2 separate regions of the Homo sapiens genome follow, and region 1 is linked to region 2. Evidence: fine-mapped expression QTL. Tissue or cell type: whole blood. Region 2 holds a variant in brackets; the other region holds the start of a gene. All regions are shown on one strand. Distances are between the middles of the regions.

Region 1 (8,105 bases), 500 kb after region 2:
ACAGACACAAAGCATGTTCAACCCTCCAGCACCCAACGTAACACAGAAAGAACAGTAAAGATAACCAAAAAGGTCTCCCACTCTCCGTAGCGCTAAAACAATATGCTTGGTTTAAAACTGTTAGGTTTTAATTCCCCCCACAAACGAACAGTAAGAAAATCAAGCATCTACCTAGAAAACAAATGAACAGGCTGGGCATGGTGGCTCACGCCTATAATCTCACCACTTTGGGAGGCTGAGGCAGGAGGATCACTTGAGCCCAGGGGTTTGAGACCAGCCTGGGCAACATGGCGAAACCCCATCTCTATGAAAAATACAAAAATTAGCCGGGCATGGTGGCATGTGCCTGTAGTCCCAGCTACTTGGGAGGCTGAGTGGGAGGACTGCTTGAACCCAAGAAGCTGAGGCTGCAGTGAGCCATGACTGTACCACTGCACTCCAGCCTGAGCAACAGAGTGAGATGCTGTCTCAAAAGTTTTGAAGAAGGTAAGGAAGAAGGGAAGGGAATGGAAGAGAAGGGGGAAGGGAACGGAAGAGAAGGGGGAAGGGAACGGAAGAGAAGGGGGAAGGGAAGGGAGAAGGGAAGGGAAGGAAGAAGGGAAAGAAGAAGGAAAAAAAGAAGGGAAGGGAAAGAAGAAAGGAAGGGAAAGAGAAGGGAAAAGGAAGGGAAGGGAGGGGAGAGGAGAGGAGGGGAAGGGAGGGCAAGAGAAGGGAAGGGCAGGGAAGGGCAGGGCAGGGCAGGGCAAGGGGAGGAAGGAGGAAGAAGCGGGAGGGGGAGGAGAAGGGGGAGGAGGAGGAGGGATGGAGGAGGAGGAGGAGGAGGAGAAGAAGGAGGAGGGATGAATGAACATATTTAAAAGCAAAGACATAGGCCAGGCATGGTAGCTCATGCTTATAATCCCATCACTTTGGGAGTCTGAGGCAGGAGGATCCCTTGAGCTCAGAAGTTCAAGACCAGCCTGGCCAACATGGTAAAACGCCATCTCCACCAAAAAAATACAAAAATTCGCTAGGTGTGGTGGTGTGTGCCTGTAGTCCCAGCTACTTGGGAGGCTGAGGTGGGAGGATCACTTGAGCCCAGGAGGTTGAGGCTCACTGCACTCCAGCCTGGGCAACAGAGGGAGACCCTGTCTCAAAAAAATAAATAAATAAAATTAAAAAGGCAAAGACATGACCCTTCTATGTCTCTTAAATGTTCATTAACACCACATCTAAAACAACTGCCACTTCAGCTGTGGAAGCTCTATTAGGGAATTCTAGAAGGCATAATCCTGGGCACTAACCTACCAGCCAAGGGTGCCTGTGAATTATAGTACCTTCCCTCTTCCAAAAGGTAGAACCTGCTAGACGCAAGGCCTAAGGGGGAGCTGTGGTGAGAGGCCCAACCGGTTTTTTTTTTTTTTTTTTTTGAGACAGAGTCTCACTCTGTTGCCCAGGCTGGAGTGCAGTGGTGCAAAATCCGCTCACTGCAACCCCTGCCTCCCAGGTTCAAGAGATTCTCCTGCCTCAGCCTCCCAAGTAGCTGGGACTACAGGCGTGTGCCACCATGACTGGTTAATTTTTGTATTTTTAGTAAGACGGGGTTTCACCATGTTGGCCAGGATGGTCTCAATCTCTTGATCTCGTGATCCACCCGCCTCGGCCTCCCAAAGTGCTGGGATTACAGGCGTGAGCCACCGCGCCTGGCCAAGATGCCCAACTCTTAAGGAGAGAAAACTTCATGAGGCATTGCAGTACAGACCAGGCAGGATGCTCCAGACGTCTTGGGTTCACTCACAGGGAATATTTCTTTCTGTCAAATAAGGAGGTTACCCTGACACATTTCAGACAAAAAACAAGCTAGCATCTTTTGGCTTGGGGATACAACAGAGTCTGGTCTGATCCTGCTTTTAACTTCTTTATGAACGAATTATAGCACCACTTGTCTTTCTTAAAGTTTCCTCAGATCCCATCAGAAAATTTTCTGATGACCAGCATATGCCCACAGTAGAGTATAAAACAGAACTACCCAGCCACTGAAGTCAACTTTAGCTCTAAATGAAAGTTTTATGTCTCCTGAGCTTCCAAACAGGAAAATTATATCATGGCTGACAGTAAAGTAATTTAATTGCACTGTTGCTATGACAACATGCTGCTCTCTTTCTTTTTAATTTGCTTATTTGTCAGTAGCTTCCCAGAGGAACTAACACGCTATTCTCCATGTTTCCTTTTGTTTTAAACAAACACTGCCAGCAATATGGTTTTAGGAGAAAAAGTGGCATTGTCACGAAGAGAGGGTTATGGGAGTTCAGTACCCTTGGATCATGTGTGCGTTTTGTGCTGGGACCCCGTACTCTCCAACCACTCACTGCATCCCTATAAATCCCGCATTTTATACCAACAGGGTGAAGAGCTGCTGATCACTACAGTTCCATGTAAAAACAAAACAAAACAACAATAACCAAAAAAAAAAAAAAAAAAAAAAAAAAACAGTTCCCAGAAACCACAGCTGAGGAGTTTTCCATTATTATACTCTAACTACAGATTTCGCCAAATCTTTTTTTCCTCCTGTTTCAGAGGGAAAAAAAAAGAATCTGGATCATGTGAGTTGCAGTTAAGCAAACATTTTTAATCTGCTGCCAACAAGGCTGCTCCACCAGATACGCAAATAGTTATTCACTGGTGACCTCCTTACAACTTTTCTCTACACACACACACACACACACACACACACACACACACCCTCTTTTGTTTTTTTTATGACTTGCTGTGTTTTGTTACCCTCTTTATTTTTTAACGGAGAAAATGCGGCAAGAAAGCTTAGTTTCTCGCCTAGTAAACAGAAGGTCTCCAAATAACTGACAAAGACATTACTGGCCCAGCTCTGAACAGATGTTCGATGCGAACTTTAAAAAGTTAAGAAATCTTCCCAGAGCCGAGCAGTAGCGAGTTTGGGGGGCCGGGTCACCCCCGCCCACCCAGCACGCGCGCGCGCGCACGCACGCGCTTCACTCTCGTCTACTGTACTTGTCAAAAACATTTCAAGGGGACCTGCGGGAGTGGCGATTGGCTGCACCCCGCGTCAATCAGCGGCGTTGCCGGGCAACGGGGGAAACTGCTCTTATCCCCATATACAGGGCAATTGGGAGCTCGCATACCTTCACTGCCGGTCAGATGTCATAAACCTTTTATTGGCCGCACCGCGGCGAGCCTCGAAAACAAATCAATAAAAGCCCGCCGTCCCCCAACTTATCCAGGGCCCAAGGAGGGTTTCAAACAGGGCCGGGATGAGGGGGGTCGGGCCTCGGGGGTCTCCGGAGACGTTCGTTGCCTGTGCCAAGTCTGCACAGTTTGGCCGGGGGGTGATCTTTGTTAGGAGCCTGTTTCTCATCTTGGGGTCTCCACTTGATCGGAACCCCCTCCCCGGCCCGGAACGGCGGGGACCCCGTCCTCCGCAGACAATACCAACTCTGTTCCTTGCGGGCGTCTTTTCGGAAACCGAGGCACCGGGAAGCAGCACGCACGTCGGGGCAGGAAACTCTTCGGACCCGGCAACTTCCCGGCTCGGGGGCTCCCGGGGTCCACACCCGACCCTCCCCCCAGGACCTGCGGGGTCCCTCGTCTTCCCAGAGCGGCGAGGTAGTCTCCAGGACCGTCTCGGACGCGCCTCCCGCCCCGGGTGCCCCCCGAGCCCACGCGGGAGCCGGCAGGAGCGGGGTGCAAACTCACCTGGCCGGAGCGGGGCACGGGGGTGCGGGGGCGCCGCTGCCCTTCAGCAGGAGCCGACAAACTTTCGCGGGCGCCCGGCGGGCATCGCTCGGTGGCCCCGCTAAGGACGCGCGGGCGCGGCGCGGCGAGCCCGGGGCGGCGGGCGGCGGGGGGCGGCCGCGGGCGCGGGCGGCAGGGGCGCGGGGGTCGCGGCGCGGCATGGGACCTGCGGCGTCCGCCGGGCGCGCCGCGCGTCCTCCCGCCGGCCCCGCCGCTCTCCCCGCCCCGTCCCGCCTCCCGCTCGCCTCCGCCGCGGCGCGTCGGGCCGGGGCGCGCCGAGCGGCGAGAAATTGTTTCCACTGCAAACAAAAAAAGGCGACACATGACCAGGCAGGAGGAGGGGAAGCGCGGGGAGGGAGGAGGGCGGAGGGAGGGACAGAGCGGAGGGCGGAGGGAGCCGGAGAAAGGGAAAACGTGGGCCTGGCCGCCAGCGGCCTGGGGCGCGGGGCACTGACCCGCCGGGGCGGACCCTGCCCGCGCCCCTCGCGCGCCCCAGCACTCAGCCAGGGCGGAGGCCGGGGCTGGGCCGCGCGGCCTCGCCTCTTGGGCCCCGCGGGGCGGGGGTGACCGGCGCGGGTCCCGCGACCCAGGGCGGCCGCGACCGTGGGCGGTGGGGCAGGTGGGTCAGGCGGCGCGTGCCCTGTCCCCTCCCCGGGCTCCGGCCACACGAGCGGGCCGGCGCTGCGCTGCTGGCAACGTGTCGCGGGAACGCTCCTACCCCATCTGCATGCCTTACATGGCTCGAAAGTAAAAATAAAAAGAATTACGATGCGGGCGAGGCTTGTGGGGGTGAGAAGAGGAGATTCCACGTCTCCCCAGTGCTGCGTCCTGATAGGACCCCCAGGGCCTTCCGAGCCCTCTCCCAGCGACCACCTCGTGTCCCGGAGGTAAGCACCGCAGCGTCCCACCCAGGTGGCCGCGTGTCTCCCGAGGGAGGGCCGGTGGCCATTACAAGACAAGAGGCACCGTCCTAAAGGCCACGCCGGTGGGGCCTCTCAAGTGGGTTGTGCGGAACGCCCCGGCCGGCCTAGAGAGAAAACAGGTCTCATTTCCATCTCAGTTTGAGCTCTCAGGAACCAGACTGACAATTCGCAAGCCACCCAGCGAAATGGTGCAGCCACCACTCTAAGTCTCTAGGCACCTCCAAATAATAGCACCCACTGCTAAAGCCACACCAACCAGCCGCCTTGGGAGAGGATGAGAGGAGAGAGTCCAACAGGACACCCTGGTGGTGACAAAAATAAAAATGTGATTGCACATTACTCCCAGGTAGCCAAATTGGTTGGTTCCTCTACAGAGGAGAAGCCCAGGGCACCCTTCCTGCCACCCCCTCCTGAGCCAGTGGACAGGACATCGTGAGCGGTCTGAAAACTACAGAAAAAAACAGCGAGTAGACCTGGAGAAAGCTTTCTAGCATGCAGTACTTTTAAACCTAGCCAAAAGGAGGGACTAAGGGAAACACCAGTTAGGCTTCTGAAAATTTTTTCTGTCTCAAAAAATAGACCCCCCCCCCCCAATCTGAGAGTCATTCCCCCTAACAAAGGTTCAAGAGGGCAGGTGACAAGTCTTCAGCAAAGATGTGCCTTTCAGACTCACCGGAGACCTTACTACTTCCAAGTTGTGTGGCATCTCCCCATCTGGAGACAATTAGGAGGTGGAAGCCCAGGGGTAGCCTGAGGTCATCCAGCCCCACCCCTTTGATTACTGAGCACTTGATGCGACCTACCCAAAGTCACTAAGCAAAAGGCACAAGGTGGCAGAGACAAGTCAGATGATCTTTGAAGTCTCACGCCAGAGATTCTCAGGGTTAGAAGTGGTAACAAAGCCAGGATGAGACAATGTGTACCCTGCTTTCCTGTAGCTCCGGCTAATGCAGGTCCTGCCCCTCCATCAGCGCGTCAGTTGAGGGTGCTTATTCTCCGCCAGAGGAACCAAGGCCAGAGACCTTTGTCCAAGCCCTTGCTGGCCTAGAGAGGACGAAGTCGCCCCCTTACATCTTCCTCTTCCATCCCCAGCCCCCAACCCCACCCCCAAGTCCCCCAGCTACACTCACACAATAGCCAGAAATCTCTTTATATTAAGTAGAGGTGGCACCTTATTTTCACCGGCCCCAGTCCCCTCCTGCTTTCTCAGAGTTCAAAAAGAGGGGATGTGAGCCAAAGGTGATTGTACATGGAATATGTCATTCCATGTGTGTTTTTGCTTCTTGCATTCTCAAACATATTTCTTAATTTCTCTCTCCCATTACAGTTGCAGCAAGAGATGTGAGAAGGTGTCACCCTGAAGAGGAAGTGGTGGACCAGCCCTGCCTGATGTGGACAGCAGGGGACACATGTCTGCCTGTCGGTCTATCTGAAATGGGGGAAAAAATGCTGAAAGCCAAAGGAGGGCTTAATGTGGCCTTTTCCACCTTCTAATTCCATAGAACCTCAGCTCTGGGACTTGCTTCCTGACCTAGGGTGCAGGGGCCAAATTTGTTTGGGAACAACCCCATTCACAATTCCCCATGAACTTTCAGAAAGGACCCTTGCGTCTTAGGTCCTGAGAAGTCACAAATAAGCAAGCTGCATTGTCTAATGTCTTGTCTACACTGTTTTACAAACACATTTAACAGCCGAATTGTATATGTGCCCTAGAAATCACTTTGAGAAACACTTATTTCCTGATAGAGGACTTGATGGGACCATTCTGCAGCCCCATCTGAGCATGGGCTGGAGAGTACATAAGTATCTGGGAGCTGGAAGTCCTCAATTCCAGGCTTATCTGCCCCCATCAGCGTGGGACCTCAGTTCCTCCTCCAAGGAGAAGAGCGCCCCTCCCTTGATGTTTTGTGCATTCTTTTGCTAAATGTTTCTCTGGTCAAGAACTTTAATCCCCCTACACACACACTGTATTGGTTATTAGAGCAGCATGGCTATTTATGGAATAGTTAAGTATAAAACCCGATATACCTTGCCCCCCTTGAGGCAGTACAACTGAGTAGGTGAGCAGGTGCAGTCGGGAAGACCTGAGAGACTGCCCAAAATAGGAAGAGTCCGAGGCAGGCCTGGAAAGACAGTCTTCTGGGGAGGGATCCTGCAAAGAGACTCCAGTACAAAGGATATATGAGAGGAAATACGGGGAGGCTGGGCAGGCACACACCGCTGGCCTGCACAGAACCATATTCCTTTCGTGCTTCCCTCTATAGGTGACTCCACTCTCTACCCTGCAGGTTGGCTTCCTCTGCTCAATGATAACCACACAGGGCTGCCAGCAGCAAGCCCTGAGGCCTTCTGACTTTTAGCACCCACCACCTTTGAACTGCCTCAAGCCTTCCATGACATAGTTTAACTTCTCAGGGAAATAGTGCGATTGGCCTAGCCTGAGTCACATGACTCCCCTACGCGCATGGCCCCCCACCACTCCCTACTGCTAACAGCTGAGACAAGGGACATGGTGAAACATCTGGGGAAGGGAGGGGAGATGACTTTGGAAGTGGGATATCTAATAAGGGTGGGTTGCTGTTTAACCTGTGGAAATGGGGAAGGGGTGTTCTTGACCTGAGCTTCTCACCTGGGGATGCCCATCAGAACCATCCAGAAGCCACACCTAACCAACTAGAGTCTTCTAGGATGGTGCCTGGATATGTGTATTTTGAGAAAGCACAAGGGGATGATTTTGCTTACAAACTGCTGTTCCAAGAGAAATCGATGGCACAGAATTACCAAATCTGACTTGATTGTAGTAGAAGAGGAACTCATTCACTGAACAAATATTTGCTGAGTGCCTACCAAGTGCATGGCATTGTGTTAGCTGCCAGAGATAGACGGTCTTTGTCCCTAAAGAGCACACAGATTAGTGGGTAAGAGTGCAAGCATCATATCACCAAACTCCTTGAATAGCAGGGTGAGCAATTTATATGTGTTAAGGTCAGAGGGCAAAGGTGGCTCACTGAATATTTTTGAGCCCAGAAGTTGTATTATCAGAGATACGAATTAAAAAAAAAAAAAAAGATAAATGGGGATGGTGGATCCAAGATGAATTTCGGGAGAGGAAGAGAGAAACTGGAAGATCAAAAACCAGCAGAACAACTCAGAAATCATTGCAGTAATTCATACAAAACAGAATGAAGACTGTTTAAGAAAAAAAAAAATTGGGGAAAAAAGGCTAAAATAGTGGTTCCTTCTGAATGTTAGAGTTATGGGATACTTCTTTTTTGTGTGCTTCTTTCATACTTGTCCATATTTTCTTTCTTTCTTTTTTTTTTTTTTTTTTTTGAGACAAGAGTTTTGCTCTTGTTGCCCAGGCTGGAGTGCAATGGCACAATCTCGGCTCACTGCAACCTCCACCTCCCAGGTTCAAGTGATTCTCCTGCCCCA
Region 2 (8,105 bases):
AAATAAATGTTTATGAGTTAAGCCCCCTCCCCCCACCCAGTATGTGGCATTTTGTTCTGGCAGCCTAAACTGAGTTAGGCAGCAGGGACAGGGTGCAGTGAGGTGAGGCCAGAGGCCTCAGGATCCAGGTTGTGTAGAGCTTTGCAGGTGGTGGTAAGGGCTTTAGATTCTATCTGGGAGAGGTAGAAAAGGATGTGAGGGTTCTGAGAAAAGGAATGACATACCTGACCTGATTTTTAAAGCATCATTCTGGCCGTTGGGATGTCAAGGGTAGAAACATAGAGTGGACCACAATGATCCAGGTGAGAGACGATGGTGGCTTGGCTTGGGTGGTGGCAGTGGAGTCAGGGAGGTGTGAGCAGATTCTGGGTATGTTTTAGAAGTGGAGCTGCCAGGGATTTGCTGATGGATTGGCTGTCGAATGTGTGAGAAAGAAAGGAGTTACAGATGCCTCCATGGCTTTTTGGCCTGAGCAACTGAAAGAGTTGATGGAGGGAGAAATCAAGAGTTAAAATTCACTCAGTTCAGTGGCTCATGCCTGTAATCCCAGCACTTTGGAAGCCAAGGTGGGAGGATTACTTGAGGATAGGAGTTCAAGACCAGCCTAGGGAATATAGTGAGGTCCTGGCTCTACAAAAAATAATAAAATTAGCTGGGTGTGGTGGTATGCACCTGTAGTCCCAGCTACTCAGGAGGCTGGGGTGGGAGGATTGCTTGAGTGTGGGAGGTCAAGGCTACAGTGATTGTGCCACTGCACTCCAGCCTGTGCAACAGAGTGAGACTTCCCTGTCTCAAAAAAAAAAAGGAGTTAAAATTCAGCTTGAAATTCCTATCCCAATGGAGCTGTACAGGAGGCAGCTGGATTCAAGAGCTGAGATTCGGAAGACATGTCCAGGCTGGCACATTTGGGAATTGTCAATGACAAGATAGTATTTAAAGCCATTAGGCTGGATGAGATTACCTAGGAAAGAAATGCGGATAGAGAAGATAAGCTGTCCAATGACTGTATCCTCCAAACTTTGGAGATGGGGAAAATCAGGAGGATGCAGCAAAAGAGGCTGAGGAGTATGTAAAACAGGCTGAGGAGTGGCCAGTGAGTAAGAAGAAAACCAAGAGAGGAAGTGGAGGGCTGGAGGTCCAGTGAAGTGTGTTTCAAGAAGGAAGGTGCTCAACAGGGTCACATGAATCTGTTGATAGGGTTCGAGGAGAACTTAAATTTGACCATTGGATATAGAGCTCTTTCACTGGAGTGTTAGGCATGAAAAGCTTATGTGAGAGGATCAAGAAAAACCAAAAAGAGAGATGTTGAGCCCGTAAAACTAGATAACCAACCCTTTCAAGGTATTTTTCTGTAAAAGGGAGGGAGGGATTGGCAGCACCTGGATTGTAGACGTTAGGTCAAAGGAGGTTTTTATTTCTGTGTTTTGATTGTGTTTTGTTTCTAGATAGGCAGTGTACGACGTGTTTATATGCTGATAGAAATGATCCAGCAGAGAGGGGGCATGGAGCAGGCTCACTAATCATCAATCTCAAGAGAGACTCCCACTGAGTATAGAATTGCAGAGAATGTCATTATGCCAAGCACCAGAAACCAGGAGTCCATGTACTTATGCCCGAGACATCCTAGGCTACTGTTAAGTCCACCTCATACTGGTTATCTATTTGTCTGAGTCCAGTGAGACAGAACATACACACAAGTTATGTAAAGCAGGTTTATTTTTTATAGATAACAGTAAGGGACAGAAGTCTTGGATCCATTGTGAGCTCATCCCTCAAGGCTCAAGAAAACTGCCCAAGGTGAACGTGGTCTTGACTGCCTGTGTCCCATTTTGTATCACAGCTGAGGACCCTCAAAAGGCAGCCTGCCCTGGGTTTCATACCCTGGGAGAAACAGGACTCCCTGGGCAAAGCTTTGAAGGACATCTTCCTTCTGGGGGAGAGAGGAATAAAGCCTGAGCTTTTTCTCAGGATATTGCATTCCAGCACATTCTACTCTTATTCTTGAGACTACATGCAAAAAAGGGGGAGGGAAAATTGGGTTGGTTCAAGGTCACTCAGAGAACTGTCTTGCAGGGGAGAAACTTGGCGATGCAAGCAAGAGAGGGTTATCGCAGAAGGTAAGAGGGGAAGGCTTCCAGTGTTGGGTTTGGTTTTAAATAGAAGTGTAGACAGCTCTGCCCATAGCAACAGGATGAAAGACAAGAGTATAAAGATATAGGCACTGCTACCCGGAAAGATGTCTCCTTGGGGGCAGGTGACATTCTTCTAATTGCTCCTATTGTTCCAGTGAAATAAGGCCATCAGCTGAGAGTGAGGAGAAGGGAGGAGATACCACAAAACATGGGCTGCAGCTTGGACCCCTGCCCCATATTTTTAAACCCAGCCTATCTGGCTTGAAATTTCTAGTCAAGATGCTGCATTTGGATCTACCTTTAAGCCGTCCACCTTGTAAAGGCATTTTTTCCCTCATATAGCCCTAAACACCTCTTTACAAGCAAGGTGATTTACCCGAGTTGGCTGTCCTACTTAATCAAGCTATTAAAGCCCAAACTGCAGTGTGAAAAAGGTGCAGGCTCAATTTAGGTGCCAAGTCATTACAAAATTGGCCCTTATGAACTATAATTAGGCAAGAGAGCCCACAGCTGATCCAGATGGCATTAAGGAACAGAAGAATGAGTCAAGGGCCAAGGGGACAGGTGTACCATCCACGGAGGCTTTCCTCACACAAATGCTTCTTTTCCTTCTTTTCCTATCTTCTCCGCTGGTGGCAGCAGCCTCTCTCATTGTGGCCTCTCCACTAAAGCCTTAGGGTGCAGGGGTGGAAGGGTTAGGGCAGAACCTAACATCCAGTGTTGCCGTGAGTGGGGTGAGCCTGGGGCCCTGTTGAAACCCAGGCTAAATCATAGTGGGAGCCTCTCCTACCCCACCTCCCTCACCACTTCTAGGATTTTCATCCAAAGCAAAAGAGGCTTCACTGAATGTCAAGTCAGACTTGAGAAGAAACAGAAAAGAGAAGTGCAAAAATGATAGGAGGGAGGCAAGAGTCTCTTATGAGGCAGTGCCCACAGCTATAGTGTAGAGCTGGCTCAAGCCACAGCCAACAGAAAATAGGAGCTGAAGAGAAGCTTGCCCAGGGGGGCTGCCTTAGCCAGAGCTTCTTGCAAATCCCCCAAATGATTTTCACATCCTTGCATTTAACTCCTCCATCTCCCCCACCCCCGCTCTGAGCAGAGGTGACTGTAAACTAGTTTTTGTTCCATACTTCTAGAGTGTTACCACGGTGGTTGCAGTCCACTAAGGGCAGTTGTGAGATACCGGAAGTCAAACCCAGTTTTCCCTTATCACCTCTTTATGTCACTGATTTTCAATTTAACAGTTACAGAGAAAAATGAATTTGGCTGGTTTCACGATAAACCAAAGAAAGCACACCTGAAGGCAGGTGAGTATCAGGTGCTGTCTGTAGGTTTCCTATCAATGAATGGAGTGGAGGGATGTGGTTCATTCTTATTTTCTCCCTGACGTCTCTCCCGGCCCAGAGGACCACTCTGTTTTAAGCCATGGGATGATGTTCTTTGACTTGCCAGAGTGGCTGCTTCTCCTCTGTCTTGCAAGGGAGGGTCCCCCTCAGAGGAGTGAGACAGCTTTCAGACCCCACAGTAGAAAACAAAGAGGAAGAAGCATCTGGGGCTACAAAATGAAACAGAGTCCTCTCAATAAGCTCTAAATGACACTGGGCACCATGTCATCTCTACATGTTCTCTACACCCAGTGGTGTGCTACCACA[C/T]GTTTAACAGTTGGTTCTCTGGGGAAAAAAAAAGACCTAGTTTGTAGCATATGCCAATTTCTATGGTGTAAATACTACCACTCAGATGAATTTCAAGCTTTCTAATATGAGGTCACTGAACACAAAGTTGGGAAGATAAAAGCACCACTGGCTTTTGTGAGCTGGTGATTACCACCAATGTTTCATGGTCAACAACGTGAGGGCAGGTGTACTTCATCTCGAATGAAAGCTGCGGTAGAACTCAAAGAAGTAAAAGGTATAGAAGTAACAGGCATGCAAGGCTTGAGGAACTGGGCAGAGATTAATTTCTCTGCAAAATGAGAATATTGGGAAGATCTCTTCGGTGACCCAAAACAGAGAGACTTAGGAAGAAGTATCAGACAGGGCGTTTTGGGGGTTGGGAGTGGAAAGCAGGTAAAAATCCTATTTGACATGTATTAATTGTGTAATTTTAAAAGGAAAAAGAAAAACAATATTAAACAGTATTCTGGGCTATGCAATGTAGACTTCCCTGTAGCATCCTTTAAGAAATCTTCAGTAAAATCTTCAGACTAATTCTTCACTTATGGTTATTTGAGTGGCTTTTGCTTCAGGGGCTGTGAGGAAGTGATGAATTCTGCTGTGAGGCTGTTGTAGGATAAAGCTGAGTCTGCTTATGAGAGAGCTGCTGTATCCAAGACCATTTAGTTACAATCTCTTATTTATTCAAATCAGAAGGTAAGCTCCACAAGGGCAAGGACTTTGTTTTGCTCACTGCTATCTCATTAGTGTCTAGAAATATACGTGGAAGATTGTGATAGCTAATCTTGAGTGTCAACTTCATTGAAGAATACAAAGTACTGTTCCTGGATGTGTCTGTGAGGGTGTTGCCAAAGGAGATTAACATTTGAGTCAGTGAACTGGGAAGGGCAGACTGACCCTCAATCCTGGTGGGCATAATTTAATCAGCTGCCAGTGCGGCCATAATAAAAGCAGGCAGGAATCAGGGAAAGACTAGACTAGTTTAGTCTTCTGGCCTCCGTCTTTCTCCCGTGATGGATGTTTCCTGCCCTTGAACATCAGACTCCAGGTTCTTCAGCTTTGAACTCTTAGACTTATACCAGTGGTTTGCCAGGGCCTCTTGGGTCTTAGGCCACAGACTGAAGGCTGCACAGTCTGCTTCCCTACTTTTGAGGTTTTGGGACTCGGACTGGCTTCCTGGCTTCTCAGCTTGCAGATGGCCTATTGTGGGACTTCACCTTGTGATCATGTGAGCCAATTCTCCTAATAAACTCCCCTTCATATATACATCTATCCTATTAGTTCTGTGCCTCTAGAGAACCCTGACAAATACAAAGACGATCAGTAAACACTGTTTGAATGTTATCGAATAGCTTTTTAAACATCACCATGGTGCTTAACACAGCACAGTCCAGTGGAACTTTCTGCAGTGGTGGAAATGTTCTATGTCTGTGTTGTCCAATGTAGTGGTAGCCACTAGTCACAGGTGGCTGTGGACATCTAAACATTTGGCTACTGCAATTAACAAACTGGATTTTAAATTTTATTTCATTTTAATTAATTTAAACTTAAATGAACACCTGTGGCCAGCATCTACCACACTGGACAACACAGTAATCACTTTGCTACTCCAGTTATGGTCTATGGCCTAGCAGCATTGGCATCATCTGGGAGCTTGTTAGAAACTCAGAATTTCAGGCTCCACCACTGAGCTACAAAGCCAGAACCTGTATCCCATTCCCACACGGTCATACACACGTCAAAGTCTGAAATGCTCTGCTCTAACAAACGTCGGCACTTTCACCTACTTTATTTTGTGTGATCCTCATTAAAAAATCTACATTGAGGATATCATTCTTCCCGTTTTATTTATTTTATTTTTATTTATTTATTTTGAAACAGAGTTTTGCTCTTGTTGCCCAGGCTGGAGTGCAATGGTGTGATCTCGGCTCGCTGCAACCTCCACCTCCTGGGTTCAAGAGGTTCTCCTGCCTCAGCCTTCTGATTAGCTGGGATTACAGGCACTTGCCACCACGCCCAGCTAATTTTTTTTTTTTTTTTTTTTGTATTTTTAGTAGAGATGGGGTTTCGCCATTTTGGCCAGGCTGATCTCGTACTCCTGACCTCAAGTGATCCACCCGCCTTGGCCTCCCAAAATGCTGAGATTACAGGCGTGAGCCACTGCACCCGGCCTTTTCTTCCTATTTTATAGATAAGGTAATTGAACTTCTGATTATGTGATTTTCTTAAGACCACAAAGTGGAAAGGAGAGACGGGGTCGGCAAGCCCAGCATTTCATCTGTTCTGTTCTCTCTCTGTATGCTGGGGTAGAAGATAGCAGGCTAGATCTGAGCAATTTCAGCACCATTTATTCCAGGACTGTTTTAAAATGGAATAAGATCACAGCACTTTACTGCCAGCAACATGAGCTATCGATGTAAGTGATAGTGTAGATGGGTTGTGAAATGGAATAGTTTTGTGGGGCAGGTAGAGAATTAGCTTCCCATCTCTTCCTCAAGTATAATTGAGTGAGTAGGAATGAAGGCATGGCCTCAATGTAATGGCAGGCTTGCTTTTAGCCAGAAAAACTGGTCCTTTTGTTGTTCGGGATCTACTTATATGCATACAAGTTCTAGCTGCTTTTCATTTGTTTGTTATTGCATCATATAAAAGGGTTGGGGAGATTTTTAACAATATGGAGATTAAATTTGACTGGCTTAATGAACAATTCCCTTCGAGAAGTCCCAGGGGTGAGGATGTGGTTCCCTCTATAATGACTGAAGATGAGATACAATGACAGAGAAATGAACGGTGGCTTTCAACATGAACCCCAAATCAAAAAAAGGTCACAAGGACTCAGACTACAAATTATAAGACCTGGTTTGCTCTCCAGCACCCTTCCGTGGAGACATCTGTTTATAGCAAGCTCCAGATTCATATTGAATAAATTAATACATGTATTTAATTATGGCAAATGAATCCCTCAAGCAACGTTAAGAAGTCTGCAATGAGTATGTGCTGTTCAGTCACCAAGTTTTCACTGGGGACACTTTCTTCCCCAGAGCAACCTGTTCCTAGCCAGCCTACACTATTTCATTGGCCCTACCCTTGTAGAATTAAAACTCTCAAGTGAAAGGACTTGTTACCAAAAATAATGATATCAGTTCAAGTTAGGTGTATGTACTCCTGGTTTGCAAACCAGCAGTGAGAAAGAACAAGCAAAGGAACAAATAGGTAAACAAAGACAGAAGGAAAAGCAAAATAATAGATTCAGAGTTATCAACAAAGCCGTGAAATAACAGGCCTCACCTCCTCCTGGCCCAGCTACCCTGTGACCTCTGTTCTCCGGCAGGGAGAGCAGTTACTCTTCCACCCGGGCACCTGAGCTGGCATTCCTGCCATTGCAGTCACTCTTGGTTCATCTCTGAAGGCATGCTTGCATTCTTGACTCATTCCTCTCTCTCACCCTTCACATTGAATTGATCATCAAATCTGGTCTTGTTTTTTAAGGGTATACAAACAATAAAACTTTATTCCACCATAAAAAGGAATGAAAGTTTGATACAAGTTGCAACATTGACAAACCTTAAACACATTGCAAGTGAATTATGACAGAAATTAACAGGACAAATATGTATGATTCTACTTCTACAGAATATTTAGAATAGGAAAAATGAATTGAGACAGACAATAGATTGAAGGGAGCAGGTACTGGGGTGGTGGTGGAAATGTGGGTTATTGCTTAATAGATGCAGAGTTTGTATTTGGAATGATGAAAGAAATTGCATATTGTGGTTATGGTTTAATGACATTGTAAACATAATTAATGCCATGGAATGGTCCACGTAAAATGGTTGAAATAAAAAAAATTTATGTGAAAACTTTAATCAATATTTGAAAAACTTTAGGTCACTGAAACACACAGTTAAGATGATGAAATAAACCTACTGAGTGGAAAAATATTTGCAAACTACACGTACAGCAAAGGACTAGTATCTAAAATATATGAAGAGTTATCAAACTCTAATAGTTAAAAAAATAAACAATCCAAGTACATAGTGGGCAAAAATACATGAAGAGTCATTTCAGAGAAGAGGATATACAAGTGTTAAATAAACACATGAAAATTGCTAATGATGTTGAAAATCTGGTCAATTCTAGTTTTTCAATAACTCCATTACATCATTTCTCCTGCTAGGGTAATAATTCAGGTCTTTATCATTTTACCTGGAATTCTGCAATTGCCTCTTAACTACTCCCTTCCAACTCCATTTTTAATCTCCCCCCTCATCAATTCATAATTTCTGTGAAAACAGAAAGC

What was found. PIP is the estimated chance that this variant, and not a neighbour inherited with it, causes the effect.
Region 1: it holds the start of FOXN3, and the variant in region 2 is fine-mapped to the expression of FOXN3 in whole blood (GTEx, PIP 0.92).

What each region holds. Positions count from the first base shown.
Region 1 is chr14:89,413,163-89,421,267 of GRCh38, forward strand. FOXN3 (forkhead box N3) reads right to left here and starts at 4,071. Exons shown (of 6, transcript NM_005197.4): 1 at 3,709-4,071. FOXN3-AS1 (FOXN3 antisense RNA 1) reads left to right here and starts at 4,192. Exons shown (of 2, transcript NR_036500.1): 1 at 4,192-4,634; 2 at 5,998-6,631. RefSeq lists enhancers at 2,923-3,217, 3,232-3,765, 3,766-4,298, 3,923-4,217 and silencers at 3,913-4,122, 4,163-4,452.
Region 2 is chr14:88,912,529-88,920,633 of GRCh38, forward strand. No RefSeq gene overlaps it. Among named protein-coding and RNA genes, the nearest start is that of TRA-AGC15-1, 63 kb to the right of the region's middle. The variant C/T (reference allele first, on the strand shown) is at 3,785.